Linked DNA regions of Homo sapiens: all the other regions are linked to region 2. Evidence: fine-mapped expression QTL. A gene starts in region 2. Each other region holds a variant in brackets. All regions are shown on one strand. Distances are from middle to middle.

The links. PIP is the estimated chance that this variant, and not a neighbour inherited with it, causes the effect. A credible set is the group of variants that fine-mapping cannot tell apart.
Region 1: its variant is the best candidate, but not a certain one, in a credible set for the expression of HPGD in transverse colon (CEDAR, PIP 0.73).
Region 3: its variant is the best candidate, but not a certain one, in a credible set for the expression of HPGD in whole blood (TOPMed, PIP 0.56).
Region 4: its variant is the best candidate, but not a certain one, in a credible set for the expression of HPGD in whole blood (TOPMed, PIP 0.65).
Region 5: its variant is the best candidate, but not a certain one, in a credible set for the expression of HPGD in whole blood (TOPMed, PIP 0.56).

What each region holds. Positions count from the first base shown.
Region 1 is chr4:174,496,806-174,502,393 of GRCh38, reverse strand. The region is part of intron 4 of HPGD (15-hydroxyprostaglandin dehydrogenase); the gene reads left to right. Among named protein-coding and RNA genes, the nearest start is that of HPGD, 23 kb to the left of the region's middle. The variant C/T (reference allele first, on the strand shown) is at 2,245.
Region 2 is chr4:174,518,975-174,524,500 of GRCh38, reverse strand. It overlaps HPGD (15-hydroxyprostaglandin dehydrogenase), which reads left to right and starts at 2,013. Exons shown (of 7, transcript NM_000860.6): 1 at 2,013-2,142; 2 at 2,434-2,557. The coding sequence starts at 2,050. It overlaps LOC105377548 (a long non-coding RNA gene), which reads right to left and starts at 1,888. Exons shown (of 7, transcript XR_007058492.1): 1 at 1,372-1,888; 2 at 1,080-1,116. RefSeq lists an enhancer at 4,674-5,203.
Region 3 is chr4:174,604,453-174,610,716 of GRCh38, reverse strand. LOC105377549 (a long non-coding RNA gene) reads right to left here and starts at 620. Exons shown (of 4, transcript XR_939492.3): 1 at 414-620. The variant A/C (reference allele first, on the strand shown) is at 3,471.
Region 4 is chr4:174,487,761-174,494,024 of GRCh38, reverse strand. It overlaps HPGD (15-hydroxyprostaglandin dehydrogenase), which reads left to right. Exons shown (of 7, transcript NM_000860.6): 6 at 711-874; 7 at 1,931-3,850. The coding sequence ends at 2,069. Among named protein-coding and RNA genes, the nearest start is that of HPGD, 32 kb to the left of the region's middle. The variant T/C (reference allele first, on the strand shown) is at 3,223.
Region 5 is chr4:174,611,087-174,617,350 of GRCh38, reverse strand. LOC105377549 (a long non-coding RNA gene) reads right to left here. Exons shown (of 4, transcript XR_939492.3): 2 at 5,341-5,460; 3 at 5,107-5,202; 4 at 2,854-3,395. Among named protein-coding and RNA genes, the nearest start is that of HPGD, 92 kb to the right of the region's middle. RefSeq lists a silencer at 3,327-3,527. The variant CTCTA/A (reference allele first, on the strand shown) is at 3,208.

The sequences.
Region 1 (5,588 bases), 22 kb after region 2:
TGTGTCACTTTTTAATGTCGTGTCACACTCTAAAGCATAACTTAATGGCACCCATAAGAATGAGAAAAAAAACAGCCATCAGATAAGGTGTTCCATTATGCGGAAAATCACAAATGAGGAAGTTCACCAGTTACTTTGGTCAGGTGTATGCACGAATCGTAGATAAATATTTCTTGCTAGTTCTCCCTTTTTTCTTCAAGTTGGAGAAGTGGTGGTTAAAACAGACAGACGGGTACACATTTTTTTGTTGTTGTTGGTTGTAAAGAAAATGTGACAGCTTTAGATTCCTGCTTTTTTAGCGTAGTTACAGAACTCCAGGTTATCATACGAGTATCAGCATCCTTAGATTCACCATTTATTTCCCTAAGTTGAATTTTCAGCATTTTTATATAGTCCATTCTACATGGTTTCTCTCTCCTTAAAAGCAAATCTTGTTTGCGGATTTAGTATGACTGCCCTGTCTGAGGAGGTTTCTGTTTTTGCAAAAAAATCTTTTTGAGCTTTTTTACCTTCTGTGAAATGATTAAAACTGGCTTTTGTAAATATGGGTAGAAAGATTATGAAGAATAGAAGAACTAATGTAGAGATGGAATTTACATTTTTTTTTCTGAATGACTTTCTTTGTTCTATTAGTACACATGTAATTTTCAGATATTTTAAATGCTTTCAGGTATTTTAAGTGCTATATATATTATTTCGTCAGTCTAATTGTTTAGTGTTATTATCCTGAGTGGTTTTAGAAAATATTTCTTTGTTTTGTGGGTAGAATTTCTCCCTCTACTGATTTTTTTTTCTGTAACTTTACAGTTGTGACAGACATAAATCTGCTACTAATTATACTTGGTATATTTTAAAAAGAGCCATTGTGTATTTCTATAAATAAACTTGCACAATGGTGGGCCTATCAGAGGTACTGAAAAATACTGTTCTTAACTATTTTAATATAAGGTATCTATTTTTAAGCACACAGGATTTCTCACAATGTTAAACAAAATGCCATTTCTTTAAAAGCAGAGACTGCTCTCACATGGTCACAATCCTTTGTTTTATTGTTGTTGCTATTCTTAAATCCCTTAATGTTGTGACAGAATATTTCCATGTGCTCCCTAATTTTGAGAATTAATTTGCAAGATTAAAAAAAACCCATATTAGTTATAGTAACTGGTCCTATAGTCATTATACTGGTATCTGGCTCTTCAACCGGTAAAATTCCACCTTCGTCCTGCAACAGGGGTCCTCCCATTGGTTTTACACACTTCAATTGAGTATATTTAAAATATTACTTCATTATACTTTGCATTTAAAAGGAACTAAACACATAGTTCTTATGTGAATTTACTTCTGTAGAGCCTGTTGATTTAAGATTAGAAACAGTCCAGTTTGCCAAGGTTCAGAAATCAAACCAAGTTAGGACACTATACCAGATTTGTGGCATTTTAGTGCAAAAGATACATTTTCATTAAAAAGTACAATGTGGATGAACCGATAAATAGGTCAATAAAATAATTATTTGAGGTTTCATCTGGTTTACTCTTGATGTTGTACAATCTGTAGGCTTGAACAAAGGTATAATAACATATATCTACCACTATAATATCAAACAGAGTGGTTTACTACCCTAAAAACCCTGTTCTCCACCTGTTCATCCCTTCCTCCCACCACCTCCTGGTAACCACTGATCTTTCAACTGTCTCCATAGTTTTGCCTTTTCCAGATGTCATATAGTTGGAATCATACAGTATGTAGCCTTTTCAGGTTGGCTTCTTTCACTTAGTAATATGCATTTACGTTTCCTCCATATCTTTTCATGGCTTGATAGCCCTTTGTTAGAGTTGAATATTATTCCATTATCTGAATATACCACAGTTTATTTGTTCATTCAACTACTAAAGGACACTAGGTTGCTTCCAAGTTTTGGCAATTAATAAAGCTGCTATAAGCATCCACACACAGATTTTTGTGCAAGCATGTTTTCAGTTCTTTGAGTAAATGCCAAGGAACTAAATGTTGGATTGTATTGCATGTTTACTTTTGAAAGAAATTGCTAAATTGTCTTCCAAAGTGGCTGTGCCATTTTGCATTCGCACCAGCAATGAATTGGAGTTCTTGTTTCTTGACATATTCATCAGTATTTGGTGTCTTCAGCATTTAAATTTTAGCCATTCTAATGTGTGTAGTAGAATCTCATTGTTGTTTTAATTTGAAATTTCCTATAACATCTGATATTTATCATATTTTCTTTTT[C/T]GTTTGTTGTTTGAGACAGAGTCTCACTGTGTTGCCCAGGCTGAGCACCCACTATAGTTTAAGGAGAGAAAACTGCTAGGAAATATTACAAGAAGTAACCCAAGGCTCCCTCTCTAGAGTTCAAGGCAGAGTAAGAGGTCTTGGCTTGAGATAAGTATTTTAAATTTGAGTGTGTGTGTGTGTGTGTGTCATACAAAGATTGAGAGAGACAAATTGAGAGAATTAATTTTTATCCTCAGGAGTGAATAAAATCATGTAGGGAAAGAGTGTTCATAGAAAAGCAAAGAGGACCAGGTATATCTCTGGAGTTTTCCAGCATGTTTATGGGTCTAGTCAAGGAAGAGGAGCCAGCCAAAGACATGAAGAAGAAGCTGCCAGTGAATGTGAGATAGGAGACCAGCCTGGAGGAGGAAATGTTTCAAGGAAAGCATGGCTGTGCTAGTTGCTGCTGAGGAAGGGATCAAGGAAAATGAGACAGAGATTTAGCCTTAGCAAACCATTGCTCATTGGCAGCCTCCATAAGATCTGTTTGACTGGAGTGATCAGATGAAAGCCTGATGGGAATGAGTTGTAGAGCAAATAGGAGGTCAAGAAAGTGGAGACAATGCAAGGCATATAATAACTCTTCTGAGGACTTTCCATTGAAAAGAGAAACAAGGTGGTAGCTGGAGAAAAAATAAGTATTATTTTTAGATGGGTAATAACTGAGATATGTTTATATCTCAGAGTGATTCTGTTTCTGCAGTTGATATCAGTGACCATTTTAAGTCTCTTAAAATACTTTCATCCGTAATTTCTGTTACACAACACTTAATTGCTTCTCTTCCTACCTGGGCTGGTTTATTCTGTCCTTTTGCTCAGTCACCTACTCTCCAAGAGATGACTACCATGTATAGTTGTGCAGGTTGTAAATGGTAGGAACATAAGCGGCACAGTTTACACCAACTACCTTGTAAATTGTGTCTCCAGAGTCATACCGTGCACACTTAGTCTAACTCTATGAGCTGACCCTTATTACCAGCCCCAGAACACAATTTTTATTTGAAGCACATGGAAACAAATTCTATGTTGGTGTTGTGGGCCTACAGTAAGTAGTGGAAGCGTGGTTAACCAATCCTGAAGCTACACCACAGTAGCAATAATACTATACCTACAGAAGAAAAATGAATCAGATGCAGTAGAAAATGTTGGATTCCTAAAAAATGTCCACCCCCAACTAAAATCATTGTCAAAAATAATAAAACAACAAGAGCTTTTCTCCCTCCATTTAGGCTTCATTTTCAAAGCAACAAACTGAAGTATAGGTAGTAAATTTCTACATTGAGAGTCAGTTTGCAAGTTGGAGAGAAAGCACTGCAAATCCACCCTGCCTGTTCAAAACATAAGAAGCACCAGTTAAAATCTACCTATATTAGGGAAAAAAAGAAAAAAAAACTTCAATTAACAACTTGACTAAATGAAACAATTGAAAAAAATAGAATGTTCCTTACACATTACAACATGGATGAATCTCAAAACAGCTATCCTGAGTGAAAAGTCAGACAACAATATAATTTATACTATATGATTACATTATATAAATTTTAGAAAATGCAAAGTATAGTAACACAAAGCAGATCAGTGGTTGCCTGTGGGGAGGAGAGGGGCAGCAGAAAGGGATTACCAAGGGGCACAAGGAAACTTTTAGGGTGATGGACATGTTCATTATCTTGACTGGTCATGGTTTCATTGGTATATACATATGTCAAAACTTATCAAACTGTATACTTTCAATACGTGCAGTTTTATTGTATGTCAATTAGATCTCCATGAAGCTGTAAAAAAAAAATGAAAAAAGGAAACTTGGTTTCTGAATGTCTGAAATTGATTTGTGTAGGTTTTCATCTAATACTAAAAAGTGAGGGGCCAGTGCTGTGGCTCAGGCCTGTAATCCCAGCACTTTGGGAGGCCAAGGCAGGTGCATTGCTTGAGCTCAGTAGTTCAAGATCAGCTAGGCAACATGGTGAAATCCTATCTCTACCAAACATACAAAAATTAGCTGGGCGTGGTGGCTAATGCCTGCAGTCCCAGCTACTCAGGAGGCTGAGATGGGAGGATTGCTTGAGCCAAGTAGGTCAAGGCTTCAGTAAGCCATGGTCCTGCCACTGCACTCCAGCCTGGGCAATAGAGCTAGACTCTGTCTCAAAAGAGAGAGAAGGGGGCAGAAAGGAAGGGAGGGAAGGTATGGGGCGGGGGGAAGAGAGAGAGAGAGAGAAAGAGAGAGAGAGAAAGTGAGGCCGGCCATGGTGGCTCATGCCTGTAATCCCAGCACTTTGGGAGGCCAAGGCAGGTGGATCATGAGGTCAGGAAATCAAGACCATCCTGGCCAACATGGTGAAACCCCATCTCTACTAAAAATACAAAAATTAGCTGGGCACCGTGGCGCATACCTGTAGTTCCAGCTACTTGGGAGGCTGAGGCAGGAGAATCCCTTGAATCCAGGAGGCAGAAGTTGAAGTGAACAGAGATCAGGCCACTGCACTCCAGTCTGTTGATAGAGCGAGACTCTGTCTCAAAAAAAAAAAAAAAAAAAAAAAAAAAAGAAAGAAAAAGAAAGAAAAGAAAGTGAAAGCAATGCAAGGGTAAACATTTTGCAGAATAGCAGTGAAAATGTGATTAGAATGTTACAAGATTCATAAAACCAACTGCCATTTAAAAACTGCAAGCAATTTCTTTCACATTCCAGTTGCATTTACGAATCCACCTTTAAGGAAAGTATGTATGTTGTCTTTGCTTATTACCAGAACCCACAAAGCAGTATATTTCTTTCGCCTCTATGACACCTTGAACTAGCTGGGGTTCCAAAGTTCATCATCTCTGCATATGTAACAAAAATTCATTTCAAATTCATCTTTGACAACTCTTATGAACAATGTCTTTGTAGTTCTTGCGGCTGTGTGAACTAGTTTATCTCTGATTAAGGTTCATGCTGCATTTCCTGCTATATATGAACATTGTCCTGAAACCACTGCCTTTGTCTCATAAACATTTAAGGAATGGGTAAAGCAGGGACTAACAAGAACCAGAAGCAGCAACTCCTGGTTATACTTTTTTATTCCCTTTATCTTCCACTCCTAGTATACCTATGTAGCCTGTGGAAACATCATAAATTCTTGTTGACTGACACTGACAAACTTAATTAACTTACACATTTTACTTAACAACAACAATGACAACAAGAGAAGCAACATATTAACAATACTTTGAAATCATTGGGTGGACACACTAGGTGTGATCTACCATCCTCAGGGATTTAAACTGCCCTTGTGCAAACATACTTTATAAATTGAAACCTGGCAGGCACC
Region 2 (5,526 bases):
TCCTTGTGCCTCACCTATCCGCCACCGCCAAACTGCTTCCTGTTCTTCCAGTTGTCACTATCCTTGACTCATTGCACTTTGACCTCAATCAATCTTCTTATCTTTTCTTAAAAGAAAAACATGTTTGCTGTCTAATCTTTTCAACTATTATCCAGTCCATTTCTCTTTCCATGTAACCTTGGTCTTCAGTCCATGACAATATCTATCTTCTCACAGATCATTTCAGCTGTTCAGTTTTTGTGCCTTCTAAATTTACTCACACTAAATATTGTCCTGAAAAATTCAAAATATTTCTCCATCCTTTATTCCCTGGTGCTCACCTGAGTATTTTGCATTATTAACTACTTCTTTCTTCTTGAAAGTATTTCTCCCACAAGAGCTGCAAACCTGTGTTCTCCCAGCATGTTGCCATTTTACCCCAGCAGTTCCTTTTCTGTCTTTTTTGCCAGTTCCTTCATCAGAAACTTCTATGTTCTGTGCATGCCATTAGAGGAGCTGAAGTTTTGTTTGGTTCCTTGTTTTCTTTTTGTCTTCTACTATTATTCCCTTTCAATATGACCCCTCAATTTACTCTTCATATTACAATTTTAATTATCATCCTAGAGTACAAATATCTATTTTCCTGTTTTAATTTCTCAAGATTTTGTCAAGACCTAATTTCAAATTAATGTTAAAGACATTTGCTTAGCGGCTTACCAACAACGCGACAAGACACATTTTACACAGTCTCCTCATACACTCCTTCCCTGCTGAGCCAGCCACCTTTCCCAGTAAAGAAGGTAAAGAAGATATAAAAATGATTCATTCTGCTGTTAGTGTCAGTCTTTTGCTCAACTCCCATTTCCCCCAAGTATTTAGATTTTTTTTTTCTTTAAGAAAATAAATGCCAGCTGGGCATAGTGGCTCATGCCTGTAATCTTAGCACTCTTTGGGAGTCCAAGGTGGGAGGGTCGCTTGAGCCCTGGAGATTGAGGTTGCAGCGAGCTGGGATTATGCCACTGCATTCTAGCCAAACAGACAGAGCGAGATCTTGTCTCAAGATTAAAAAAAAAAAAAAAAAAAAAAAGCCAACCACTTACGTTTACAGAATTAAAATTGCAGCCTGCCGCTGACAACCTGAGAAAAAGAGACAAAGTCAGTGGAATAGCCCTTGTTATTTATGCAAGTCCGCATACAGCTAGCCCTGGAGTTCCTGGAGAGCAAGGAACCTCTGTCCCAAACTTGACTCAGAGCTTCCAAAGTTGGTGTATTTCAACAAGTAAGCATTCCATTGAGCCAACAATTTGGTAGGCTACCAGCGGCTCTGGAGCGCCTGTTGATGATGACAGTTTTTGTGGGGGCATCTCAATATGACACACAATTGACACTGACCAGAAACACAGCGCCAAGGACACTCTAGTCCTAGCCATGAAATGTTATGATTCCAGGTTTTCAGGACAGAGCAGAGTCCACTTCTCATCTCCAGTATCCGTAAAAATTTGTCCAAAATGTAACTAAGAAAACACAATGATATTAGTTACTTCTGCTCCCCGTCACCCTCAACCCCACTGATTACGAGATGGGAACTCACACAAAACTTTGAGACAAAAGAGCAACAAGTTTGCTTTATTGTTTGCTTGTTTTGTTCCGGAGTCGGGGCCGGGAGGGAGTGCAGGAGGAGGGATCCAAGCTTCCAAGCCTCTGCTCCGCTCTCCTTCTATCCAGTTGGTCTTTAGGGCACTGAAGGAAACTCTTCTTCAGAAATAACCTTTTAACTTTTCTTCTGTCAGCTGCCTGCCAATCACGGAGCCAGAGGCTGAGGGGAGGCTTTGAGCCGGTCTGCGAGTCCGGAAGGCAAAGATCGCGAAGCTTGGCGCTCCAGAACGCTCAGGGGGCAGGTGACACAGTCGTGGGTTCCCCGGCGGGCGCTGGCTTGACAGTTTCCTCCCCGCCCACTGGCAGGGGAGCGCCCCGCCGGGCTGCACGCGCGCGCGCGCAGGGGGGCATAAAAGCCGCGGCCGCGCGGAGACGCGGAGCTCGCCCACCGCCCGCCCCAGCAGTGGCTGCACCATGCACGTGAACGGCAAAGTGGCGCTGGTGACCGGCGCGGCTCAGGGCATAGGCAGAGCCTTTGCAGAGGCGCTGCTGCTTAAGGGCGCCAAGGTAAGCCCGGCGCCCAGCCGCGGAAATTTCTCTGCCCACACACTCCGAGACTCGCCCCGCCGCCCGAGGTGCACTGGCGGAGACAGGGAGGCCGCGCCCGGCGTGCCCACTTTGCCACTTCCAAAATTTGCTGAAGCTGAGGCTGTGAGCACACCTCAGAAGTGGCTGGGAGGGAACCCAAACCTAATTGCCAAATTTCAGGTCCAGGAGGGGAGCCTCTTGTGTGTTTATTGTTTGTCCGTCTATTTCGTGAGCTGCGCAGGCCCGCGATTCCTCTCCTCTTGTCTATAGGTAGCGCTGGTGGATTGGAATCTTGAAGCAGGTGTACAGTGTAAAGCTGCCCTGGATGAGCAGTTTGAACCTCAGAAGACTCTGTTCATCCAGTGCGATGTGGCTGACCAGCAACAACTGAGAGGTAAGACAGGGGAATCAATCTGTCAACTGGGAACGTGCTCTCAACAAGCAACAACCTGAAGGCAGCCCGGCCAGGGGGCCCTGGGTGCCGCCTCCGCTGCCTCCTCGAGAGCAGCTACCTTGAAGCTCCAAAAGACAGTTTGGACTGATACGTTTCCTTCTGACAGCCCAATAGCTGTAAAACCGAAAGAAAGGCAAGACTGCTGGAGAAATCCTTTTATTGTAGTCATTTGGCAGCATTAATGTAATCAAAATTCCTTTATGTATTCAAAGACAGTGCTGCTGCAGTAATTATTAAATGATTGAAATTGCAGACAAAACTTGGAAAATTAAAGTAGGTTAAGTAAGGTACTGTTGACAAACAACTTCTCCCAGAAAGCTGGAGTCCAATGACAATCAAATGTGGCAGTGTTTTTCGTTTAAACATATCAGAATACAAGTTCAAGGAGCATCATCACAGAAGTGCTAGATGCTTTTGACCATATGTTTTCTCCGGCTTTTTCCCCAATGAGACAGTACTTTAAAATAATAATAATAGTAATCATAATAAAGTATACAATGTTAGAATTGTAGTAGAAACATCTCTATCAGCCTTTCCTCAATGCTTTCCTGTTTCCGGCTACTCACTTAAAATAGACCAATCTACTTGTGAAGTATCAGGGACAATATTGGCATACACAATAAACAGCTTTGATTATAAAGCTGTTTTTTTTTTTTTTGTACATCTATTGGAGAACTTGAGAGTGCCCCAATAAACTTACAGGAAACAAAAATTCTGGAGAAAAACTAGAAAAGTAAAATATTTGTATTTCACAAAGTTTTATTCAAAGAGACTGAGTAAATTGTAAGGCACTTTTTAATCAAGGGGTCTGAAAACTTTTGCAAATCTTATTCCAGTGCTCCTGTTCTTAAAGGGACATCAAATGTACATTTATTTTAAAATTTTAAAATATTCTGTAAGAGAATGAAAATGAACTGACGTGTTAGAAGGAAGTGGTGTACCAACAGTTAAGAGAAATTGTAAAGGAAATTACATAACTGAAATCTGAAAATGCTAATAAAGACCTATAACACAGATGACAAGCATGAGCAGAACAGATTTGTAAACACAATGCAAGAGGAACATATTGTACCAGAGGACAATTATGTTGATTGCACATGATATTTTGGATCAAGGATAGAGCCAGGTCAGATCTCAACATTCATGCTGATGGCATAAGGAACAGTATAAACAATCTGAAAGCCATTTCTGTCTCAATTTATATAGTTTCATAAATGACATTTAACTACAATTGTTTTTTTCCCAGTATTTAAAATTAATACCTTGGCTATAAACTCATTCCTTAAGGATAAATGATTGTGGAGGAGGAAAAATACTCAGACACATAAGTGACCCGGGAAGGCATGTTGGTCATGAGAAATCCACATGTTGTCTGGACATGAGCATTTGCTTGCATCTAAAGGAAACATGACATTGATTCTTCCAGTTTCAGGATTTAATGTTGCCTATAACTTTTAAAATTGTTTAGACAGTGTGGAAATTATAAAAATATGAGATGAAAAGTTTCTTGGAGATAATCTAAACATAACTTATTTTCCAAATGAACAAATCACAGCCAAGAGAGTTTAGGTAAGTTACAAAGAGTACCATAGCATATAAATGTCAGCAAGAGGTAGACTGTCTGTTGCTTGAGCCTGGAATTCAATGGGATGTCAGAAAACAAGATGGTATACTATACATTGGTAAGGGCAGAGTATAAGGAATACGGTGGAGAACAGAATGAGGAAAGAAAATTAAAGCGGCAATTAGACATACATATTTAACACCCTCATTTTCCAAAAGGTGAAGGTTGTTTCTGTGGAGTTATGAAGAGTTAGAACATACTCAGAATGGAAGGAGAAAAAAAAAATACTGGGGGACATTTTCTGGACCCAATTTGAGATTTTAAGAAACATTTTTAAGATTCCATGAAAAAAGGCCGGGTGCAGTGGCTTCACGCTTGTAATCCCAGCAGTTTGGGAGGCCGAGGCGGGCGGATCACGAGGTCAGGAGATCGAGACTTTCACTCGCGTCTGTGTGAAGAGACCACCAAACAGGCTTTGTGTGAGCAACAAGGCTGTTTATTTCACCTGGGTGCAGGCTGGCTGAGTCGGAAAAGAGAGTCAGCAAAGGGAAATAGGGGTGGGGCTATTTTATAAGATTTGGGTAGGTAAAGGAAAAAGGGGGGTTGCCCGCTGGTGGGCAGCAGTGGGGGTCACAAGGTGCTCAGTGGTGGAGCTTTTTGAGCCAGGATGAGCCAGGAGATGGAATTTCACAAGGTAATGTCATCAGTTAAGGCAAGGACCGGCCATTTTCACTTCTTTTGTGGTGGAATGTCATCAGTTAAGGCAGGAACAGGCCATTTAAGTATCACTACTTTTGTGATTCTTCAGTTACTTCAGGCCATGTGGATGTATATGTGCAGGTCACAGGGGATATAATGGCTTAGCTTGGGCTCAGAGGCCTGACAGAGATCATCCTGGCTAACACGGTGAAACCCCGTCTCTACTAAAAATACAAAAAATTAGCCGGGCGTGGTGGTGGGCGCCTGTAGTCCCAGCTACTCTGGAGGCTGAGGCAGGAGAATGGCGTGAACCCGGGAGGTGGAGCTTGCAGTGAGCTGAGATCAGGCCACTGCACTCCAGCCTGGGGGACAGAACGAGGCTCCGACTCAAAAAAAAAAAAATCCATGAAAAATAAACAGTTTGTGTTTGTTGTTCTTCCATTCCCGTACAGTGAGTGTAAAAGGTACATATTAGGAAATCTTGAAAATGTTTTTAGTAAACAACTAGCATAGTAATTTATCTATATGGCAACTGATTAATCCATGTCTTCCCCAATATGTCTGGTGGTTGTTAATGATTATATGAATTTATTTCAATCAAAATAAAGCTTATGCTGACCTACTTTTTTTAAGGACTTGATATGTT
Region 3 (6,264 bases), 86 kb before region 2:
ATCACAAAATAGGATCACAAGTCAATGTAAAATAAATCATTCATTTAACCAAAATGGTAATTGAAGGATTTCAAAAAATGGCAAAAACCTTCATTCTTTGAAAGAGGAGACTTAATTTTTCAGCCAATAAGCCCCAATAAAAACAGCATGAATTCAATTATATTTGTTTTCCAATATTTTATAAACAATCTATAAAATTTTCATCTTGACCCATAAGATACAACTTCCCTTTTATAGCCTTTATAGCTTTTATTAAGGAGTTAATTCATGCTTCAAGAAAACCTTGTTACTCTGACACAGGGGCCTATATGCTGGTCTTTCATCAGTGTGCATTTGATGTTAATAGTTAATTTATAGAGAAAATGAATTTACTTTATCTCTCAAAATTGGCCTTTACATTCTCGCCTGCCCACCTCTTCCATGATAATCCCTTGGCCTTGAGGAGTTGAATAGCTTTAATTTCTGCCCCTGTGTCTCAGGAACACAGTTTATTTTGATTGGCATCTTCTACAGGGCCTGCAGATGAGGCTTTAATTGCTGTCAGAGTTTGAGATTTGGCAGTACTTGGTGTCCTTTTGAGACTCAGGAGTCAAATCCTTGTAGCTCAATGTCACAAGAACCTTAAAGGCACATACAGAAAGATACAAGGATATAACAACTTTAATTTTTAAAAAAATTTCATCTGTTTTTTTTTTTAGGCAAACCAAAACTTAATAATAATGGCATAGGAATTACTTTGATTAAACATAAAATCTATTAGGCCAGTTATCAAAAGACAGAGGAAAAGACCTGCAGTGCACAGAATATTATGTTGAAAGAAAACGTTTCCTTTAGGCCTTTAACAAAACATTGTTAGGCCAGGCATAGTGGCTGATGCCTGTAATCCCAGCACTTTAGGAGACAGAGGCGGGCAGATCATCTAAGGTAAGAGTTTGAAACCAGGCATGTCAATATGACAAAACCCTGTCTCTACTAAAAATACAAAAATTAGCTGGGCGTGGTGGAAAATGCCTGTAATCCCTGCTACTCAGGAGGCTGAGGCAGTAGAATTGCTTGAATCTGGGAGGTGGAGATTTCAGTGAATCTAGATCTCACCACTGCACTCCATCCAGCCTGGGCTACAGAGCAAGACACAGTCTCAAAAAAAAAAAAAAAAAAGAGAAAGAAAACGTTGCTAGCATCAGCCCACAGCGAATAGAACTTGAAGGAATAAAAACTTTTATGATCTGAAAATAAGTTGAAGAAGAGCATTACTATTTCGCACTTTCTAAAAGAGAAGAGAAAACAGAAAACATCAAGAAACAATACAAGTTGAACTTTGGGTTTAAAACAAATTAAAATCTCTTATAATTCATTAAGAGTAAATCAATCCTTTAAGAAAATTTTATTGTTCTAATCAATTCTTTTGTGTATAAGTGTTTTTATCATCAAATTTAATCTCTAGAAAGACCACTATAAATCCCTTTAATTATAGACAACTTGATCATATTAACTTTTTTTGGGTTTTGTTTGTTTGTTTGTTTTTTAGACAGAATGTTTTCCTACAATATATTTTTATTGGAAAATACCCAAATAATGAAATATATATTATTTAATTTAATATAAATTTTGATTCTAAATTATGACAAGTTTGTTTACAAGTGTTTATCCCATTACATTTACCTAATTATTTTATTTTAATCATTTACCAAGATTATGAAAACTGTGATAGGCATCATTTAAAGTTATGAAACTCCCCATTGCAAAATTATAACTGAGACATTAAAAAAGATATGACCTCACTGACTCCATCTTGCTGCTAACCTCCAAGCTGTCCTTGTTCATTCTTGGGCATAGGCTGAACTAACTTTGGAAGGAACTTAGTTTATAGTTTAGCTTTGAAAAAAGATGGTAACAGTCCTCTTACAAACAAACCTCCTTATTGCCTGTGGTCTGGACTGCCTAAAGCCAGAAGATTATGGGTTGTGGTAATTTTATTAAATAATTTGAGATGTAGCTATTTTCATTAAACCAATATCAATATCTTATCTATTAAAAATTACACAAGAAAGATCATTCCATTTTGGGCTGTGTTTATAGTTTTATAAACCCTATGCCAAATTTTGACACCTTATAGTATTTGGCAGGGATAAGTATGCAATTGCTTGATAATAATTTTTAAGACATTTCTAATACTACTTTACTAATAATTTTAAGCTACCTTATTTATTAAAGATTTTACTTAAGTCACATAAAATTGAAAAAGCATTTGACTAGTCTTTCCTTTTTCTCCGATGAAGTATTTGATTTAAGGACTTTTATTTTTCTTGAAGCCAATTAATAAGAGCTCTTTTATATATTTTAGTAGTGAAATATTGTGTAGAGAACACACAAATACATAGATGTGTTAGGCATAATGATAAAAATACACTTTATGAATTCCTACGACCTCCTTTTTTTTTCCGTATCTTAGACTTGCAAACTCTTGATAAACTGATTCATTATCCTGGCAGTTGTCAGGTAAACAGCCCTAAATTTGCATATTGAAGGAAACAACTCTTAGATTAAAAATCAGATTAGCAAAATTTACATCTCAAGGTACAGAGAAAAAAGGTCTGGTGATGCTACAGGGAGATTAAAGATAGATGCTAAATCAAACATAAAATTGTAGAAATCTATCACAGGATTGCATGAGGAGAACAATTTTATTTAGATAGGGACTATCTATCTTCTAACTGGATCTCTGAACTCTGGGCAGAGTCCACACTGAATCCTGGATCTCTAAAAAGGGAGAATTATTATGAAGCTAGACCTCGTGATGCTTTTACAGTGCACTTTAAAAAAATTTTTTTAAACAAAAACATTTGTTTAAACTTCACTTTCTTAAAAACCCAAGTATAGCCTATGTTGCAATAACTATTTTAGTCAAAAAATCAGGTAACACAAGTATCTAAACTTTACTTCCTTAAAAACCCAAGAGTAACCTCTATTGCAATAATTATTTTAGTCAAAAAATCCGGTAACATAATACAAAAGCAAGCAGTTTAAGAGCTGAGATGAACTTGTCTGTTTGGAAAACACTCTTGGAGTTCCATAAGTAAAAACAGTGGTTTTTCCCCAAAAGAGAGTCTGGCACCTTCTCCATTTTCCTTAAGGAACCCCAGGCTATTATAAACTATTTTAGGTCCCTCATGCAGCACAGGGTGCAAGAGAAAGGAGAGACAGCAGAAGTAAATGAAGGAAACATAATTCAGTCAAATGAGATGAAAAAGACAAAGTCCTAAGAGAAAAAAAAAAAAACAAAACACACACGCACACAAAATAAAAAAGGTGAAGGCCTTTTAAATACAAAAACACACACATGCAGACATACGCACACACATTTTGGATGTTAGTTTTTAATTAAGCTGACTTTTAACCACTGAGCTCCTTCAAAAAAAATGTTTTAATCTATTTACCATATTTCAGCTCGGACAAATTGCTGCTGTTTC[A/C]GAAGTGCCAAGTATCCAAACAGAAAGGGCTTGATTTAGGCACCAAACCCAGGCTGTCATGGTGGAAAAATAGAAGGCAGAACTCTTAGCTATGGAACTGCAGCATGGGGCAACAGCCATTGCTCTTTCAGTTTGGCCTGGCTAGCAAAAAGGTGGTATTGCTATGTAAATAAAGCCCCTCGAGTAATCAAAAGCAGAATCTCTCCTTTCTGTTTTCCTTTTGCTGTATGTTTTTCTCCCCCCGCCCCCGACCACACCACCTTGTTGTTGTCATTGTTTTCTTATGGGAATTTAGCCACTTCAGAGGCCTTGTTCCTCATAATTTGGAACTTTCCTTTGTATTTGATCAAGTCAGAGTTGATCAAACCCAATGGAGAAAATATGGAAATAACAACAAAAACAGAAACAAGCAAACAACAACAACAAAAATTAAGCAAAACAAACAATGGCGCAACTTGTAAGATTACGGAGTGTGTTAATGGTAAGGTGAAATTAAGATCAGCTGGTTTGTCTTGGCTAAAATCTTAACTTTAGCCAAGACAAACACCAATTCAGTTACTCACCCAGGGATAGGTCTCAGACTTAAGACTGCTCTCTACCATCCTAGAAGCAGGAAAATCTCAAATTTGTCTTTCCTCTTGGAAGTGAGTTCAAACTCCATACAGGAGTTACCTGCCTTCCATTGTCATGGAAGCAGGAAAAACTTGCCTTCCTTGTTTTGGAAACAAGTAAAACTCCAAGAAAAAAAAAAAAGAGTTGTACAGCAATAAACTTTAGATCTTGACCAAATATTGGAAGATCAGGGATGCTCTGGAGGGAGCACTTCCAGGCCTCAGCAAATTGTCCTATTGGTTAGACCCACAAAGATAGCTCAAGCTGGTACCAAGCACCAATAGGAGATTTGTCAAAGGTCAGGGGCACCTTCACTCAGAATCCCTTCGTGGTTACCAAAATGTGAACTGCAAATATCTGAGACAGGTCTCAGTTAATTTAGAAAGTTTATTTTGCCAAGGTTGAGGATGCATGCCCATGACACAGACTCAGGAGGTCCTGATGACTTGTGCCCAAGGTGGTCAGGGCACAGCTTGGTTTTATACATTTTAGGGAGACATGAGACATCAATCAACATATGTAAGATGTACATTGGTTCCATCTGGAAAGGTGGGACAACTCAAGCAGAGAAGGGGCTTCCATTCATAGGTAGGTGAGAGACAAACAGCTGAATTCTTTTGAGTTTCTGATTAGCCTTTAAAAAGGAGGCAATCAGATATGCATTTATCTCAGTGAGCAGAGGGATAACTTGAATAGAATGGGAGGCAGGTTTGCCCTAAGCAGTTCCCAGCTTGACTTTCCCCTTTAGCTTAGTGATTTGGGGGCCCCAAGATTTATTTTCCTTTCACAGAATCCTAGCAATTATCCACTGGCACATCTGACTTTTAGCATAATTAAAGAGGGGAGCAGTGAGACTGTGGGCACGCACTAGGCTACAGTGGCAGTGACTGGCAAAGCCTGCACTAACCCCTGGGCCGTCTCACTTTCTCAGTACCACATTACTTTTTATTCATATATTTTACTGTAGGCCCAGTGGAGAGTAAGATGGAAACACTGAAAAGTCACTGAAAAGTACTAGCTTTGGGAAACTGGCTGTTGAAGCTCTGAATGAGCAGAGACACTAGGCCCTGAAGAGAAAGTTAAAGGAGGATAGCCGATTCCACACAGGGCACATATGATATGTTTTCTGAAGAAAGAAAGTTAATATGTCGATTTTTCTGTAGGACTTAAGAGTCTGGAGCTTGAGAGAAGTGTAAATTAAAGATATATATTTGAAGAACACTAAGCTTATAGAATAACAAGCTTTATACACCATCTGGCCTATAAAGCCACAAGAGTGGAAAAGATTGCTCAAAATCAACAATCCTTTTTACATTAAAATAATATGAGCAGATCAGATTTTAAAATATTAATTTTACTAGATATACAATTGTGGGCTGGGAAATATCAAAATAGTTTCAGGAATACCAATAAGTATGCCTTTAATATCAAAAATTAAATTCAATAGTTACTGAAAACCACCAGTAGAATAAGTGAGTTCAGATGAATATTTAAAGTCATATCTTTGGATTCCCACAAAAAAACATGTAGTTTTCTATCAGCGACTTCTAACACTTTATGGTACATGTCTTCTTTTTTTTTTTTTTTTTGAGATGGAGTCTTGCTCTATTGGCAGGCTGGAGTGCAGTGGCGCAATCTCGGCTCACTGCAACCTCCGCCTCCTGGATTCAAGCAATTCTCCTGCCTCAGCCTCCTGAGTAGCTGGGACTACAGGTGCGCACCACCATGCCCGGCTAATTTTTGTATTTTTAATAGAGACGGGGTTTCACCATGTTGGCCAGGATGGTCTCCATGTCTTGACCTCATGATCCGCCCTCCTCAGCCTCCCAAAGTGCTGGGATTACAGGCGTGAGCCACTGCGCCCAGCTGGTACATGTCTATTTTTATTTTATAGTTCCTAGCCTACTATTTCAAGGAATGCAAGTTAGGAATTCAATTCAATAAACATTAATTCAACTGCTAGTATTTGCCAAGTATTGGAATACAAGATAAAAAGTATAGCAGCTGTATATAAGCCTTCTTTGTTTCATGAACTAATTTTTTGTGTGTCTACTAGTTTCTAGACACTGTCCTGGCATTAATATAATAGTAAATAAGAGAAACCCAACCTTCAAGTGTTCACATCCTAGTAGGTTTTTAGTCTCAGTTGTTTAACGTATGTTGAATCAGCACAGGAAGATAA
Region 4 (6,264 bases), 31 kb after region 2:
AGTATAGTCTTACTTGACCTCAGCAGGAACATGCACATCGGTGACTCAAATTTCTCACTGCCCTGTGCATGTCCACAAATAACTACAAATGCTCCACAAGTATTGATTTCCAGGGTTACAAGTAAATTTTAGCAAGCAAATTTAACAAATTTGTTTATATGTAATCCATGAATAATGAGAATTGACTAATTTTTTAATAATTGCAAATAAAATCAATAGTTTGTAAATTAAGCCAAATAATGTTAGTCTGAAAATACTTAAATTGTCTTCCAGATAGGACAGATTATTAAGAGTGTCTTTAGAATCAAAGTTCTAAACATTTTCACTAAAAGTCTTTTTAATTAAGTATTATTTGTTATACAACCACCATATTTGAAATAACACTTGGGATATCGATTCTAAGTCTCAGCTACTTAGCTTCAGGCTCCTGCAGAGTTCAGTAGATAAGAGAAGCTTACATAATTGTTTCCAGGAGTTGTCCAGTAATACTGATTTTTAAAAAAAATTAATTAGGTGAGATTTTCAGGAATTAATACAATACTTTATGTATGTGTTATTTTACTATCTATTTACCAGTCATTGTTACATAGCTGGGAGGATATCTAATTAGTATTTTTTACATCAGAAAATTGTAAGATGCTTTAATGATCAGTTTGTCCTGTGCTATATGTTTATGAAACTGCTGAAACCTACAACCTTCTAATTGGCAGTTGGCTGCTAATCTTATGAACAGTGGTGTGAGACTGAATGCCATTTGTCCAGGCTTTGTTAACACAGCCATCCTTGAATCAATTGAAAAAGAAGAAAACATGGGACAATATATAGAATATAAGGATCATATCAAGGATATGATTAAATACTATGGAATTTTGGAGTAAGTAAAACTATGTCTATTTTCTTTTAAATGATGAAGCAAAGCATTATTTAGATAAGCTATAAAAAGGGAAGAAATAAGCTTATACAGTTGAGAAATGAACACAAGCTTCAAACTTTTGGTTTGGCAAACTCTCTGGGAGAAAATATATTTTTCTGGGTTTATAAATAGAATGTAAGTTTATACATTATGAATGTTACTTTGAAATATGTAAAATGCTTCATTACTACCATCAGTCATAAAGTTGATATTTAGTCACCTTTGAAGGCAATGATACCTTCTCTGCCTAAATTCCAAGCAATATTCAAATATAGTCTGTGAAATATTGCAAGTTTCCATGACTTCAACCACTTTTATAAGAAATAGTTGATACACACACATACATGGACACATACTTTCTCAGTGAATTATGTCTGAATTCAAGCAACTGAGGATTTCATGAATCATAGTTATCATGTTGAAGGAATCAGACCTGAGATCAAATCTTGGCTCTACCACTAACCATGAACTTACCCATCATACCTCTAGATGCTTCAATTTTCTCACATATAAAATAGAGATAATACAACAGACTTAGGGACTTTGAAAAACTTAAATAAAATGATACATACAAGGTACTTAAAATGGTAACTGGTAAAAAATAAAATTTTCAGTAAATGCTAGCTGTTACCAATCATATTTCTACACTAATAACATCTATATCTGGTAAGTCTAAGATCTACTGATACGATAAAGATGAGAAAATGATCATTTGCTCAGTGAAAATAATGAGTATAAATTCCTCCTGCCAAAATGATGGAAGGTTACAGCTAAATTTATCAAATAATTTAGTTAATATCCAATTGAAAGAAATCTAATTGAATAAATTAGATAAATAAGATATCTAATCTAGATATCTAATATGGAATTAAATAAAAATTGGAAGTAGCAATAGTTTAATGACACACATTTCCCTATAACATGTTCAACTTAATAGATTCTTCAGAAAATAACTTAAAATGAAGTGGTAATATGCCTCATTCTTTCGTTTCAAAATACTGTTTTCTTTATTTTTAGCCCACCATTGATTGCCAATGGATTGATAACACTCATTGAAGATGATGCTTTAAATGGTGCTATTATGAAGATCACAACTTCTAAGGGAATTCATTTTCAAGACTATGATACAACTCCATTTCAAGCAAAAACCCAATGAACAGCTTATGTGTTAGCCATAGCTGAAAATAAGCACAAATAGCTTATATTCAGATCCTATCTTCATTTGAATATAGCTTTTAAATGAAATGTTACAGTTTGAAGTTTTCCTTCATGCACTTGGTGATAAACGTTTTCTAAATTTTTAGTTAAGTATATGGATAAAAAGTTATGAACTATTAAAAATGTGATGTGGACCAAAGGCTAGGTTGTAATCTTGATAGTCTAAAAAATGATCAAAACAAATGATTTTCAAGGAATATTCAATATTCTGCCTTTCAGAAAGTGTATTTATATCTGTGCTTCATAAATATTAATGTTCTTCAGAACATCATTTTAAAGGAGATACTTGAATTGTTATTTAAATCAAACCAGATGTAAAACACTCACATACAAGTTCATACTTTAAAAGAGGAAAGCTACTTAACAATGACAAATATTTCACAATAATAATTTTTACTTATATACCATCTTTCAACTGAACATTTCAGTTCTTCCAAGAGCTTCTTAGAGTAGTATATTTTGGGGGCAGTCAAGGAATAAACTACAGTGTAAACATATCCCAGATGAAAACTGCTGTATGGAAAAATGACAGAAAGTAACTGATTGACACTGTTGATTCACAGTTCAGCCTCCTATCTGGGAAAGACATTTCTTTCCTCTGCTCACTTTAAGAACTTTTACCGACTCCAAAAATCTCAGGAATTAAACTTTTAACAGTTACAGCAATAAAGAATAGTTAGTACTCCAAAAATATTATATTTAAGATGCTCAACAAGAAAAAAATGCAAATGTAATATTTTTTTCAAATTACTTCTTTATTGACTTGTCCAAATTTCAAAAGTGCCTACCCTTCAATAAAACTTTTTTATTCTGATCTCCATAAATTACTTAGTCTTCTATGTATAGCTATCAAGGAAATAAAACCAATTTTGCCACAGCCACAACTGTAAATGTTTTTGTACCCATGCTGAAACTCATAACAACACAGACATAAAAATAGCTGTGAGGTTTTGCTTTTTTTGTTGTCAGCTATCTTAAGAATCATTAAATACACCTGCTTTGGGTAAAACTCTTTGCAAGCAGTAATTAACACTAGTAACAGTGAAAGCACAAGATTTCCAAATCAGTCGTTTTCTCAAAAAAATATCGTA[T/C]AAGTGACTCATCCTGTCTGCTAACTCCAGACCTCCCAGCTTGAAGCCAAATCTTTCCATGTGAGATTGATATGGATTTCCTAGAAGTACTGGAATGTTGTCATATCTTGCCCTATTTTAATTCTGCTATAGAAAACAATTGCCTTCACTTTTAAGGAGTAATTTGAATATTAATAACTCTGGTCTAGATTTTCATATAATGTATTAAAGACAAAGTAGTGAACATCAATGAACATCTGATAGAGATAAACTGTAATCAGGCATAAGCTTGTTTGTATGTTCTGGCAGTGACTAATCAGTAAATGATGTCGGTTTGCCCAGTATCACTTATCTTCTGTATTTTTCCTCTGTCGTGTAAATAGTATAACCTTTTCATTTATGGACAATTTTTTGGACTAGTAGCCTTCAATATACATTCTGCTTTGAATTAATTTTTTCAAATCAATAAATTATGTAGACATTTAAAATCAAATATCAAGTAGAATTGAAAAATGTGAGTTACATAAGTTAAAAACTTACTTTAAATCTTACCTTCTATAGGTAGCTCTAAATAAATTCATATGGTTATATGGCATCTCTGGTGTATACTGATTGAGAAAATAATTAAACTGAAGTTAGGGGAGGGGGACCTTGGTTTCTTGTATTTTTCAGTGAATATCCTAATGTAAATGGTATATATATTTTTCCAATGTGTTTTTCTTAGTAAAATGAAGTTGGTACTTCTCAGAACAGCAACACTAGAAATACGTAGACATTGAGAAAAAGATCAAGACTTGATAATGCATTGAAATGTCCTACAAATTTTATTTTCTCATGTAAAAATGAATTTAGACACTTGTAATATCATTTAACATTCAAGTGATTATATGACAATTTCTCCTTACTTTTGCTCTCTATAAATTTAGCATACTGAAGAGATCTGAGAATGCAAATTTTGAAAAAAATTCAAGGTATTTCACATACTAAACATCATCAGATGGTTTTTCTTAAATTAGAATTTCAAAAGGGAAATTTACTGGTGCATAGGAAAAGGTGATTGGATCCAGGGTCACAGTTGCTGCCATAAGGTCTCCATCTCCTTTTCTCTTGTTAGCGTCCCTTCTAGGCAGCTCTTTCACATGATCACTTCCCGGATCTACAGGCCTGATTCCCAGCAGCTTGCAGTCCACCAAAACAAGAACTGATTTGGCCTTGCCTAGGTTATATGCCCACTACTGAGACAGTCCTTGTGGTCAGAGAGATAGCTACTCTGCCTGCCCAGAAGGAGATGGCATGCCTCCCCAGAGCTGGCAGAATTATGGGGTGGGAGGGAGACAGGAGAGGTGGGCAGGGCATTGACATGAGTCCTATGGACTAAAACAAGGAGAAGGAAAATTTCCAAAAGGAAAATTATGCTGTCATTACCAGAAAGTAGGTGAATGCATGCTGAGGTGACAGAAACAATAGCCACTGTATGTAGAGAAAGACAGAGTGATAAAAGATGAGTTATGTCTTAATCCTTTGGATAAGTTTGCATACTATCTTGGTTCCTATAACATGCCTAGATCCATGTTTTCAAAGTGTGTGAAAAACTGAATCACTCTGGATAGGATATGATAAAAGAGGAGACAATGAATGGAAAATACAGGAGGCATCTCATGCATATATGATTGTACTCATTCTTGATATAAAATATATTTCTCATTGTGAAACACAGTGAAAAAGGTTCAAAAGCTACTTGATTTAATATTGACTGCAAAACTGCAATCATTGCCTCTAGACTTGCTTTGTTTTTGAGATTCTGAATATATGACCACCTTAATTCTACCATTACATTCAAGCTTATTAGCCTCCCTTCCTTCTTTCTTTCCTTTTCTTTTCTTTCTTTCCTCCTTTCTTTCCTTTTCTTTTCTTTCTTTCCTTTCTCTCTTTCATTTCTGTCTTTCATTTCCCTTCATTCCTTCCTTCCCTTCCTTCCTTCCCTCCCTCCCTCCCTCCCTCCCTCCCTTCCTTCCTTCTTTCCTTCTTTTTTTCTGAGACAAAGTCTCACTTTGTCACTCAGGCTGGAGTGCAGTGGCATGATGCGGCTCACTGCAGTCTCAACTTCCTGAGCTCAAGTGATCCTCTGGCCGCAGCCTCCCAAGTAGCTAGGATCACAGGCATGCGCCACCATGCCTGGCTAGTTTTTGTGTATTTTTAAAAATCCTCCTGCCTTGGTATTAGTACCATTTCTAATTCTTCTTACTAAAATCTCATTGTCAGCATATAATTACTTTCATGCGCGTCCGTGTGAAGAGACCACCAAACAGGCTTTGTGTGAGCAACATGGCTGTTTATTTCACCTCGGTGCAGGTGGGCTGAATCCGAAAAGAGAGTCAGCGAAGGGAGATAGGGGTGGGGCCGTTTTATAGGATTTGGGAAGGTAATGGAAAATTACAGTCAAAGGGGGTTGTTCTCTGGTGGGCAGGGGTGGATCTCACAAAGTACATTCTCAAGGGTGGGGAGAATTACAAAGAACCTTCTTAAGGGTGGGGGAGATTACGAAGTACATTGATCAGTTAGGGTGGGGCAGGAACAAATCACAATGGTGGAATGTCATCAGTTAAGGCTGGTTTTACTTCTTTTGTGGATCTTCAGTTACTTCAGGCCATCTGGATGTATACGTGCAAGTCACAGGGGATGCGATGGCCTGGCCTGGGCTCAGAGGCCTGACAATTACATTAAATTTTACAAGATTTCTAAGGTTATCTTTGAACTATGAAACTCTTTTCCCCACAGTTTTCAAGTAATATTTCCACACATAACATTCACTCATTCAACAAATAACAATTGGCTGGCTGCGGTGGCTTCTGCCTGTAATCCCAGTGCTTTGGGAGGCTGAGGCAAGTGGATCACTTGAGGCAAGAAGTTCGAGACCAGTCTGCCCAACATGGTGAAACCTTGTCTCTACTAAAAAACAAACAAACAAACACATACGGAAATTAGCTGCATGTGGTGGCAGGTGCCTGTAATCCCAGCTTTTCAGGAGGCTGAGGCAGGAGAATTGCTTCAACCCGGGAGGTG
Region 5 (6,264 bases), 92 kb before region 2:
CAGGTAAGTGGCAGAGATAGAATTTGTTTGTTTGTCTCTTTGTTTATTTATTTATTTATTTATTGAGACAGAGTCTTGCTTTGTTACCCAGGCTAGAGTGTAGTGGCACAATCTCAGCTCACTGTAACCTCCACCTCCCGGGTTCAAATGCTTCTCCTGCCTCCGTCTCCTGTGTAGCTGGGATTACAGGCGTGCACCACCATGCCTAGCTATTTTTTTTATTTTTAGTATAGTCACAATTTCACCATGTTGGCAAGGCTGGTCTCAAACTCCTGACCTCAAGTGATGGGCCCACCTCAGCCTCCCAAATGGCAGAGATAGAATTTAAACCAAATAAACAACATGTATGAAAATGTATTAATAATTAATACTTATAAAAGGCAAGGTGTAGCTACGACCAGAAAAAGAGAACTTTGACATTATGTGTAAAAATCAGCCTAAAGACTTCATTCATTCAAGTTCACGGTGAGTCATAGCTCTTCCAGGCTGCAAGTAGATCTAATTGGCAACTGACTTCTTAAAAAAGAGAAGCAAAAAGACAATTTTCAACTTTTTCTTGTCAACTCATTTCAAAAGGAAGTTAAGGTTATCATATTCAATATCACCGTCTCTTAGTACAAACTGGAATGTTATTTTTCCCTGTTATGGATTCCTGATATTTTCAGTTAAGTTTATTTATTTAATTCCTCCCATACAGCATACATCACTCTCTATCCTGGAGATGCAACAGTAAACAAGGAAAGCAGTGTCCCTTCTGTCATGGAGTTTATATTCTAGTACAGGAAGCATAAATTAATAAATTACAAATCAGGATTCATGACATAATAGTTTATAAGAGCTTAGATACAGAATTTAAAAATGGGCTTGTCAGGAAAGATGTCTTTAAGCAAATTTAGTGGATTTCGTATGCTTTGCTCTATCCAGCTGCATCTCATGGATCCGTGAACTATTTGTTCTCAGTGCTTAGAAAATTTTGGTAAGACTTGGTCAAGGGGCCTACTCTGCCTACCACAGAGAGAGAATTATGAGTCCTTTCTCCTCAACAGTGATTAGTTTGAGGATGAGCACATAGCCAAGCAAGGCCAACCAGGGAGGAAGCTTAACTTTAAGTAGGAAGAAGTTCCCATCCTAATAGAGTTGCTTAGCTTGTAAGAAGTGGGCTGCTATCAAATTTGCAACTTAGAGGGAATTTGTTCAAGAATTTAGAAAGAAATGGAGCCATCAATACCAAATACAATTGTGATGACAGCAAGAATCTACTTCTGCACATTTTAGTTTGAGGCTAATAAATTTCCCTTAAATTGTTTTAGCTAGTTTGTGTTTGGTTCTTTTATCACTATACTGAAAGAATCAACAATTTTTCACGGTTGGCACGGAATCTTTGGTATGATTAATGTGAAGGAAACAGTTCTATGAGGACTATGGACAAAATAACATTCCTGGCAGAGAAATGGGCATCAGAAAATTTCTCAAGGTGGAAAATAATATTATATGTTCTAGAAACAACTGCATAATCCATTAAGAGAAGGCAACAAACAATGGTCACTACCACTATTAAAAAATCAACATTGCGCTGAAATTTCCTTGCCAATAAAAGAAAAAAGTAAAAGAAATTAAGGATAGCAGGGTAAAAAAAGAAGAGACATAACTGTTATATGTAAACATTTGTCTACATAAACAAATTCAAAAATATGTATAGACAACCTGTTAGAGTTTAGCAGGAGCTCTGCAGAGAGATCAATATAGTCAATGATGCTTTTGCACAACATCAATAACCTATTAGAGAATATAATAATATAAAAGATTCTATTTGTGATACCAGCAATAAACATAGAGTTCCTAGGAACAAAACATGCAAAATGATGTACAAAACTGCTATTCAGAAAATTACAGAATCTAACAGATGGACATAAAACAAAGTGAATATATCTTGAGAAAGGCATAATTAATAAGTAGGAAGATTCACTGTTGTAAATATTTCTATTTCCTCTCAAATTTACCTAGAAGTTGAACGTGATTCCAATGAGAATATTCAGAAAACTTTTCACGATGCTACATAAGTGAATTAGAAAAATAGAAGTCCAAGAACACCCCAGAAAATTTGGAAACCCAGCCAGGCCATTCAAGTCAAATAGCTCTTCTTCAGTATCCTGCTCAAAGGGTGCTCTACCACTAAGAGCACTACAGTGTCCCAAGGGCTCCTGAGTCATACAGAATCCAAGGCTTCACCCAGGCTTACGGAATTAGATATATTAACAAAAATCCCCAAGTAAGCTACGTTTGCAAGAAAGTTTTCAAAGCAATCACCTAGTGTTCATCATTGTACCTTCTCTTTATAGATCTGACCTTTTTGACCTTTGATTATAAATTAAGGCACAGGCTTTTAGGCTCAAAATCCCAAGATTTAGATAACATGGTTTGTGTTAATTCTATAAGATTTGTTTAATATGGTCAAGAACTGATCTAAATGTTCCAGATGCATTTTCTTTATATAAAAAGGTGAGAAGAGTGAAAATCTGTCTCAAAAACAAAAAAGAAACACACACACACACACGAAGAGGCAGGCAGATCACAAGGTCAGGAGTTTGAGGCCAGCCTGGCCAACATAGTGAAACCCCATCTCTACTAAAAATACGAAAACAATTAGCTGGGCGTGGTGGCAGGCACCTGTAATCCCAGCTACTTGGGAGGCTGAGGCAGGAGAATCACTTGAACCTGGGAGGCAGAGGTTGCAGTGAGCTGAGATTGTGCCACTGCACTCCAGCCTGGGCGACAGTGCGAGACTCTATCAAACACACACACACACACACACACACACACACACAAGAAATATTATCCCAAATTAGTCATGTATACGTTGCATCCTACCATATTTAATTAAGGAATGCTATTTTATCTATTCTCTCTCCATAAGTCACTTCTCAAATGACATACAGAGAAATAAATGAGTAACGTCATAGGTTATACATGCAGGTAAAATAGGGAAGTAGTGAGTGCTCTCTAATACTTCAGTAGTAATATTGCCTTTTCTTTCTTTGCTCAATTTAGTGTTTAATTTTTGTGGTTGGCTTTCTTGTTCTTTTTTATGGTAGCAACACGCAAGCCTTTACTGGTTTTGAAGTTTACCCTGCTAAAATTCTTCCTGTAAATACAGGAACTTCCCTCTCTATTACAGTTCCTGTAAATACAGGAACTGTTAACTTCCCT[CTCTA/A]TTATCAGAAGATCAAGATCCTGAGACATTTATTTGTTCCTTCCATCATCATAGCATTACCAGTGTATCAGAGTAATAGTCATAGAACAGAACAAATGTACTTTTTCTCCTTTGTATTTCCTTTTACCAACTTCATCTGTATTCCATGGAAGTCATTCCTTTGCCTTAAGGTGGCTTCAGATTCCTAGTAAAGAATGTGAAGGTAAATAGAATGAATATTCGGGCTTCAGATACAGGAGACTTTCGAGACTACAATAAGATTATAGACTTAAATAAAAAGCTTTGTCAAAAGAAGGATGTTCTAAATGCTTTAGGAGCCCAATAATATAACAAGGACAGAAATGGTCTAATTGTTAAGATTTCAGTAAGCCACGGATATTTATAAACCAATGGAGGGTGGAAGAATATGCTTCCCCTACCCCCAATATACCTCTTTGATATAAGGATTTTTTTCATATAAAGGCACTTGATAAACAGCAGAAGCAAAAGGACATTCTAATCTTCTCTTTTCTTCCTAAAAACAGGAGATAAAAACTGCCATGTAAAAAATGCCCTCTCTGTACCAGGAGAAAAAAATATTTGACAGAGAATCATAGCCAAGAGAATTCTGTACAAACAGACTTTGTTAAAATAATTCTTATCTTTCATTAGCCTCCCCACATAATTTAGTTACTTTTCCAGAATTGCTGCTCTTTGTTAAACCTGATAATATGGTTTAGATGTTTTTTTCCACTCCAAGTCTCATGATGTAATGTGATCCTCAGTGTGGGAGGTGGGGTTTGGTGGGAGGTGTTTGAGTGGATCCCTCATGAATGGTGATATGGGTTGGCTGTGTCTACCCCCAGATCTCATCTTGAATTGTAGCTCCCATAATTCCCTTGTGTTGTGGAAGGGACCAAGTGGGAGATATTTGAATCATGGGGGCAGTTTCTCCCATACTGTTCTCATGGTATTGAATAAGTCTCACAAGATCTGATGGTTTTATAAGGGGAAACTCCTTTCTCTTGGCTCTCATTCTCTTCTGCTGTCTGCCACCATGTGAGATGTGCCTTTCACCTTCTGTCATGATAGTAAGGCCTCACCAGCCATGTGGAACTGTGAGTCCATTAAACCTCTTTCTTTTGTAAAATGCCCAGTCTTGGGTATGTCTTTATCAGCAGTGTGAAAACGGACTGGTAATAGACTGGTAATGTACAGTAATGGACTGGTACCAGTAGAGTGGGGCACTGCTGAAAAGATACCAAAAAATGTGGAATTGACTTTGAAACGGGGTAATAGGCAGGGGTTGGAACAGTCTGGAGGGCTCATAAGAAGATAGGAAAATGTGGGAAAGTTTGGAATTTCCTAGAGACATGTTGAATAGCTTCACCCAAAATGCTGATAATGATATGGACAATAAAGACCAGGCTGAGGTGGTCTCAGATGGAAATGAGGAAATGTTGGGAACTGGAGCAAAAGTGACTCTTGTTATGTTTTAGCAAAGGTACTGGCAGCATTTTACCCCTGCCCTAGAGATTTGTGGAACTTTGAACTTGAGAGAGATGATTTAGGGTACCTGGTGGAAGAAATTTCTAAGCAGCAAAGCATTCAAGAGATGACTTGGATGCTGTTAAAGGCATTCAGTTTTAAAAGGGAAACAGAGCATAAAAGTTCAGAAAATTTGCAGCCTGAAAATGCGATAGAAAAGAAAATCCCATTTTCTGAGGAGAAATTCAAGCCAGCTGCAGAAATTCGCTAAAGTAGTGAGGAGCCAAATGTTAATCCCCATGACAACGGGGAAAATGTCTCCAGGGCATGTCAGAGGTTTTCACTACAGCCCCTCTCATCCCAGGCCCTGAGGCCCCAAGATAACTTGGGGCTCCTGGGCCTGTCAGAAAGTGGCATTCTTTACTTACCACTGGTCAGGAACCCTGTACAGGAACTGTGTAGACAAGGTATGAGGCCAGTTTTCCCAAGGGATTTTTATTTGCTCTATAAGTCCAGTTTGATTCCTTAAAGGAAAGCACACCATTTCAGTCAAAACCTTGGTAAAATAACCAGTTTCTATAATTGTGTCCTGTTACAATTGAAAACAGATTTTTCTTGCACTTATGCAAATAACTATATTGCCATAAATAAAGAATACTCACAAGTAGTTTCCAAATTCTGGAGAAATCAGGTAGAGAGAAACAAATATGTTCCAAATTTTGTTCATAGGAGTATAGTAACTTGTTAAAAGATGTCAATAGCTCAAAAAAATTTCCTTGGCTCTGAAAAACAAAACGAAGGATCAAGAACATTTTAAGAAAAAAGTCAAAAAGATTAGTTCAGTCTTCTGTTAGTTCAGTTCATGCAGGTAATTCCTGTTCTGCATGATATTCATGAACATTTCAGCTCTCTGTGAGACCTGAAAGTTTTTCCTCTATTCTGATGTCACAATCTCCATAGTTATCAGAAACCTGCATTCGAGAGAACCTGTTAGGGCTTTATAGGTGATTATAAAACCAGCTTCTAATGAGGACCAAAGGCTGGGTGTAGTGGCTCACACCTGTAATCCTAGCCCTTTGGGAGGCCAAGGTGGGTAGAGCACCTGACGTCAGGAGTTCGAGACCAGCCTGGCCAACATGGTGAAACCCCATCTCTACAATAAATACAAAAATTAGCCAAGCATGATGGCAAGTGCCTATAATCTCAGCTACTCAGGAGGCTGAGGCAAAAGAATCACTTGAACCCAGGAAGTGGAGGTTGCAGTGAGCCAAGATTGCACCATTGCACTCCAGCCTCGGCAACAAGAGCAAAATTCCATCTTAAAAAAAAAAAAAAAAAGCAATTGTCCATTGTGATGGTTAATACTGAATGCTCACTTGATTGAATTGAAGGATACAAAGTATTGATCCTAGGAATATCTCCTTGCTCCTTAGCCTGCAGATGGCCTATTGTGGGACCTTGTGATGGTGTGAGTTAAGACTTACCATAAGTTAGTTAAGTATTAACATACATGCATATATATATTCCATTAGTTCTGTCCCTCTAGAGAACCTTGACTAATACATCTATGGATGACAAAATGTTTT